Linked DNA regions of Homo sapiens. The protein of the gene in region 2 interacts with the protein of the main gene of each other region in a biochemical or structural test. Each region holds a gene or a part of one and is shown on either strand. Other genes may lie near its edges.

Evidence for each region.
Region 1: the proteins of NXF2 (region 2) and NUP153 form a complex in vitro, tested with the Homo sapiens proteins (one study listed by BioGRID).

Annotation. Positions count from the first base shown.
Region 1 is NC_000006.12:17,633,926-17,637,425, reverse strand, and holds part of NUP153 (nuclear pore complex protein Nup153), read left to right. Parts: coding exon 1-273; intron 274-3,500. UniProt on the Homo sapiens protein: Component of the nuclear pore complex (NPC), a complex required for the trafficking across the nuclear envelope. Functions as a scaffolding element in the nuclear phase of the NPC essential for normal nucleocytoplasmic transport of proteins and mRNAs.
Region 2 is NC_000023.11:102,253,667-102,257,166, forward strand, and holds part of NXF2 (nuclear RNA export factor 2), read left to right. Parts: intron 1-3,500. UniProt on the Homo sapiens protein: Involved in the export of mRNA from the nucleus to the cytoplasm.

The DNA of each region.
Region 1 (3,500 bases), on a different chromosome or scaffold from region 2:
GTTTAGTGCAAAATAAACCTGAAGCAATAAAATGTGTAGCCTGTGAAACACCGAAACCTGGAACTTGTGTGAAGCGAGCCCTTACATTGACAGTGGTTTCGGAAAGTGCTGAGACTATGACTGCTTCATCTTCCAGCTGCACTGTAACCACTGGTACCTTAGGATTTGGAGATAAATTCAAAAGGCCCATTGGATCTTGGGAGTGTTCAGTATGCTGTGTTTCTAATAATGCAGAAGACAATAAGTGTGTGTCCTGTATGTCTGAGAAACCAGGTATGTTTTTGGCTTTATGGAGTAATTTTGCTTATTACTTCTGTTGAACAGTTTAATTTATTCTAAGAATCCTTGTTTTAGATGTTTCAGGATGAGCATTTCTCATACATATTAATTTTTCTAAACTATCTTGAGGTAAAAATGTCTTGTTTGCAGCTAGATCTTTATGTTCAGTTAGGATAGGTTATGTGTTAACTAGTCTGGTATATATGACGACCTCCTCTTTTTGTACAGTTTTATCAGAAATTTCTTGTTCAAAGTTGACTAATACAGATTCTGAAAGATCTTAGAATGGGGTAATATTTCTCAAACCTTTGTACAGAGTAAAATATTACTTCTCCAAATAGAAATCAGGATAGCTAGTGGTCATTTACAGGGAAGGTTTCTTTAGGGGGTAGACTATAGTCGTTAATGAAAAGGCTGTAGCTGTTGCAATGATTGTAAATTACCAAATCACTAATTCTAATCTAGGCAGCCAGAAACATGGAGTTAGTTTTGAGTTTTTTCTGTTTCTCTGTTCAAAGTTGGAAGAATTAGTGAAGATTCATATTGAATCTTTAACTCATCCAGAAGTGGATGATGGTTTTGTAATATTATATAATTATATGGTACAGATGTATGATAACATGGATATCCTGGGAATTACACTGTTTTCAATGCATTATTCATGAATATGCAGTTTTGTGTCTGTAATGTACAGCTCTGAGTTACTAACCTAGACCTTTTGCCTGAGCCCTCATGCCATATTTCTGATTCCTACTGGATATTTCCCTATGAGTAAGATTTTAGAATCTTCATTCCTTTTTTTTTTTTTTTTTGAGACAGAGTCTCACTGTGTCACCCAGGCTGGAGTGCAGTGGCACAATCTTGGCTCACTGAGACCTCCATCTCCCAGATGCATGCAATTCTTGTGCCTCAGCCTCTCAAGTAGCTGGAATTACAGGTGCATGCCACCACACCCAACTAATTTTTTGTATTTTTAGTAGAGACAGGGTTTCGCCATGTTGGCCAGGCTGGTCTTGGACTCCTGACATCAAGTGATCTATCCGCCTTGGCCTTCCAAAGTGCTGGGATTACAGGCGTGAGCCACCATGCCCGGCCTAGAATCTTCATTATGAAATATTTTTGTCTTCCCATCTGGTTCCCCTGCTCACCTACAAAAAGAAAGCCCTTGATGTATGCAGGAAAGCAAAATTAATTTTAAGTTGAAGGGGAATAACAAAACTTTGAGTCAGGAAGTAATTTGTTACACATGAACAAAGGAAGCTCACATATGTATTAAAGAACTTGGATGTCCTCCTTTCAATGATGAACCATCATTTTCAGCAGAGGAGTGATACAGTCAAGTTTGTATTTTTGATGAGTCACTGGCTTTTTAGATAATGGATTTGAAAACAAAAAAATTTGGAGACCGGAAGATAGATTAGGAAGTGGTATCAATCATATAGGCAATAGGCCAGACACTGTGGCTCACGCCTGTAATCCCAGCACTGGGAGAAGCCAAGGCGGGTATATTGCTTGAACCCAGTTTAAGACCAGCCCGAGCAGCATGGTGAAGCACTGTCTCTACAAAAAACACAAAAATTAGCCTGGCTTGGTGGCACCCGCCTATAGTCCCAGCTACTTAGGAGGCCAAAGTGGGAGGATTGCTTGAGCTCGGGAGGTAGAGGTTGCAGTTACCTGAGATCATGCTACTGCGCTTCAGCCTGGGTGACAGAGTGAGACCCTGTCTCAAATAATGATAGGCCGGGTGCGGTGGCTTACACCTGTAATCCCAGCACTTTGGGAGGCCGAGGCGAGTGGATCACCAGGTCAGGAGATTGAGACCATCCTGGCTAACACAGTGAACCCCTGTCTCTACTAACAATACAAAAAATTAGCCGGGTGTGGTGGCGGGTGCCTGTAGTCCCAGCTACTCGGGAGGCTGAGGCAGGAGAATGGTGTGAATCTGGGAGGTGGAGCTTGCAGTGAGCCGAGATCATGCCACTGCACTCCAGCCTGGGCGACAGAGCGAGACTCCGTCTCAAAAAAAAAAAAAAAAAAAAAAAGATAAGCCAAGCTGTGCAACCTGTGGGCTGCATGTGGCTTAGGATGGCTATGAATGAGGCTCAACACAGATTTGTGAATTTTCTAAAACATTATGAGATTCTTTTGCGATTTATTTTTTTTTTTTATTTTTTAATTTGTTTTAAAGCTCATCAGCTGTTGCTAGTGTTAGTATATTTTACTTGTGGTCCAAGACAATTCTTTTTGTCCAGTGTGGACTAGGGAAGCCAAAAGATTGGACCACCCCCGCCTCCCCTGCTGATACAGGCAATAGATAATGTACTGATCGAACTGAATAAGGAATGGAGGACATAAAATTAAAGACGTTGATTTCAAGCTGCTGAAGTCAACATTCAGATGTATGTAATGTGACCAGGCATGGTGGCTCACGTCTGTAATCCCAGCACTTCGTGAGGCTGAGGCAGGCAGATCACCTGAGGTCAGGAGTTTGAGACCAGCCTGGCCAACATGGCAAAGCCCTGTCTCTACTAAAAATACAAAAATTAGCTGGGCGTGGTCGTGGATGCCCGTAATCCCAGCTACTTGGGAGGCAGAGGCAGGAGAATAGCTTGAACCTGGGAGGTGGAGGTTGCTGTGAGCTGAGATTGTGCCACTCTACTCCACCCTGGGCAACAGAGTGAGACTCTGTCTCAAAAAAAAAAAAATGTATGTAAGGCCTTTGGATACACCCTTTGGGTGGAGATACGGATTTGGGGTCATTAATCCATAGTTTTGATATTTGAAGTCATGAGAGTAGAGTTGAGTGTGTTCACTCAAGATGGCCTGAAATGAAAGTCCGCTAACTTACAGGGAGTGGCAGGAATAAAGCTTTTGAACAGTTAATCTTTTAAAAAGGTGCAACCAGAAAGGAAAAACAAAAACTACATGGCACTGGTTGCTTCAGAGGAAGATGGATTTCAAAGGAACAGGATCAGAGGTCTCAATAAAAAAGCTGTTACTCAAGCAAGAGATGGGTTAGTGGTGGGAGTAATGGGGGGGGTTCATGAACCAGAATAGCAGTAGAAGAGTCAGAAATTGATTGAAATAGATTTGAGAAAAATGTAGAGGAGGAGGAGTATCCAGCCAAGCTAACCAAGTAAGACAGTGGAGTCACCAACTAAGAGACTACAGTGACAAGCTCAGAAGTGTAGATTGCAGGTGTAGATTAGGAAACTGTTTTT
Region 2 (3,500 bases):
TATGGATAGTAAAATAGTTACTATAGTGGAACAAATTAACATAACCCATTATGTCACATAGTGACCCATTTTTGGTTTTGGTAGCAGTAGGCGCTAAAATCTATTCATTTAGCAGAAATCCCGCATCATATTTAATAGTACAATTGTACAAACTGTATTCCAGCATGTTGTGCACTAGATCTCTAGTCTCTTTCATCCTACATATCTGCTACTTTGCATCCTCTGACCTACATCTCCCGCTTTCCTCCTCCCATCCCCTCCTCCCCACCCCGACCCTGATAACCACTGCTTTATTCTGTATCTCTGTATATTTGAGTTTTGTTTTACTTTTATTTTTTTAAGATTCCACATATAAGTGAGATCATGCAATATTTCTCTTTCTGTATCTGGATTATTTCACTATTATTTCATTGTTATAGCATAATGTCCTCCAGATTCATCCATGTTTTGGCAAATGGCAAGATCTCCTTTTTAAAGTGTATACATACAACACATTTTCTGTATCCATCTGTCCCTTGATGGACACCTAGGTTGTTTCCATATCTTGGCTATTGTGATTAATGCTGCAGTGAACATGGGAGTTCAGATACTTTTCAAAGATCAGCTACTTTCAAAAGGTGGTTATTTTATTTCCTTTAAGTAGATACCCAGAAAAGCAGTTGCTGGGTCATATGATAGTTCTCTTTTTCACTACCATATTTTTTTCTAAAATAGAAAAATGTAGAACTACCATTTTATTTACTAAAACAGAAAAAAAAAATCTATTTCTTTAGGTACCTCCATACTGTTTTCCATAATGATTGTCCCTATCTACATTCCCATCAACAGTGTACAAGGGTTCCCTTTTCTCCACACACTCGGCAATGTTTGCCATCTCTTGGCTTTTTGATAATAGCTATCCTAATGGTTGTATGGTGTTGCCTCATAGTAGCTTTTATCTGCATTTTCCTGATGATTAATGATGTTGAGCACTTTTTCATACACCTGTTAGTCAGTGTGTATGTCTTCTTTGGAGAAATGTCTATTCAGGTCCTTTGCCCGTTGTTTAAATTTGATTGTTTTTCTGCTATGGAGTTGTATGATTTCCTTACAAAATTTGGATGCTAACCCCTTATTCATACATATGTTTTGCAAGTATTTGCTCTCAATGTGTAAGTTGCCATTTCATTTTGTTGATTGTTCCCTTTGCTGTGCTTTTTAGTTCTTCTTATTCATTCCTAGGAAAATGATCTATTTCTCTGCTCAGTTGACTAATACTTGTAATGCAAGATTGAATAGGTGTGAGGTAGTAGGCATGCTTTCCTTGTTCCTGATCCCAAGGGAAAGCTTCGAGTGCCCCCCCACCCCATTAAATAAGTTACTAGCATTAGGACTTAGGTATATATGTTTTATCATGTTAAGAAAGCATCCTGTGGTGCCTATTTTCTTAAGGCTTTTCTATTTTTTAACATAAAGAGGTGTTGAATTTTTCCAAAGGCTTTTTCAACATCTGTGGTGATAACCATATGATATTTGTCTTTAAGTATATTAATATGGTGGATGATATCAAGGTACTTTCTAATATTGAGCCAATCTGTATTGATGGGATAAATCCCACTTTGCCAAAGTATATTATGATTTTTTAAATATGTTGTTTGCTAATATTTTATCTAGCATTTTTGCATCTACACTTATCTATCCATGTCACACTTGCTTCATAAAGGAAGTTATGAAAATTTCCTTTATAATGCTGTTGAATAATTTATAGAGCATTGGCACTCTGGTACTATCTGATCTTTGAAGGTTTAGTAGAATTGACCTGTAATAGCATCTGAGCCAGGTGCTTCTTGGGAGTTATTCCTTAATAACTTTTTCCATTTTTTTCTGTAAAAATTGGCCAAGTTAAGCCTTCCAGCATTAGAGTAAAAATCTTGATAATCTGTATTTTCCTAGGAAATTATTTATTTCATGTGTATTTTTAATTTCTTTATACACAGGTTTGAAAAGCAACCTAATTTTTTCTGTTTAAATGATTATCATTTGTCGTTTATTATTTTGTATATTTGTGCTCTCTCCCTTTCTTCCTTCATTAATCTGCCTAGTGAGTTTGTCCATTAAAAAAAAAACCAGGATTTTGATTTAATAAATATACACACATTGTTTTTCTACTATGTATCTTATTAACATCTGCTTATGTATTCATTCATTCATTCATTCATTCATTCATTTTAATGACCGAATCTCCCTGGATCACTCAGTCTGGAGTGCAGCGTTGTGATCACAGCTCACTGCAGCCTTGAGCTCCTGGGCTCAAGCAATCTTCCCACCTCCGCCTCCTCAGTAAGTAGGACTACAGGCATGTTCCATCACGCCCTGCTAAAGAATCATTATTATTATTATTATTACTGTAGAGGCAGGGTCTCCTTATGTTGCCCAGGCTGGTCTCAAACGCCTGGCCTCAAGTGATCCTCCCGCCTCAGCCTCTCAAAGTGGTTGGATTACAGGTGTGAGCCACCAAGCCCGGCAATTTCTGCTTTTATGTTATTTCTTTATTTGTGTTTCTTTTGGTTTCCCGGGTTGTTCTTTTATTAGATTTTTGAGGCAGTGCTTTAATTTGTCTAATTTTATTCGTTCATTTTCATTGATGAGAGTATTTAGCGCTCTGAATCTGCTTCCAATCACTGCTTTAACTATCTTCTACAGAGTCTCATATGTAAGCTCTTATAATCACTCTTCTTAAATATTTCTGTAACTTCAGTTGGTATCTCGTCTTTATCTCGACATTTGCTTAATAGAAGACTGAACATTTTTTCCAGGTAGAAGAGCCTTTGTGCTTTCAGTTTGTGTTAGTAAGTTCTACTTTTGTTGCATCGTGATTGCAGAGGGTTGGTTGTAATATTTCTACTTTATGGAAATTAGCGAGGCCTTCACTGTGAGGTAATTATGATCACGTTTTGTTAACGTGCCATCAGCTTTTGACAAGGTGGTATATTCTTTATCTCCAAGGTGTAGATTTATGTGTGTGTATGTATGCCTATGTGTGTATACACACACACAATGTATCTTATTGTGTTGTTTACATTTTCGGTATAGGTCTCTTTATTGTACCACTGGATTTGCCTTGTACTGAGACTTGCCATGTATTAAATCTCCTATTATTACTGTGCTTCAATGTCTCCATACCTTTTGGCATTACAAAGGTGGTTCCTATGTTATTTGGTGCATAAGTATTCCTAAGTATTATATATTCACTGTGAATTTTCAATTTTAATGTTAGCATGTAAACTTTGTCATTAAAAAAATTACTTTTAGCACCTGCTTTCTTATTGAACATTTTACTATCTGGTCCACTAGTTTGTTTTTAACCCCCAGTCTCCTTTTAACACTCATCTACTGCCTTATGAAAAAAAAAAAGTTTATTCTCTTTTTCTTTCTATCTCTCTCACTTCTCTTATTTTACTTGCACTATTTCTTTTTTTCCACAATATAAAATAAATGCACGTTAGTCATTTTCCTTGCTT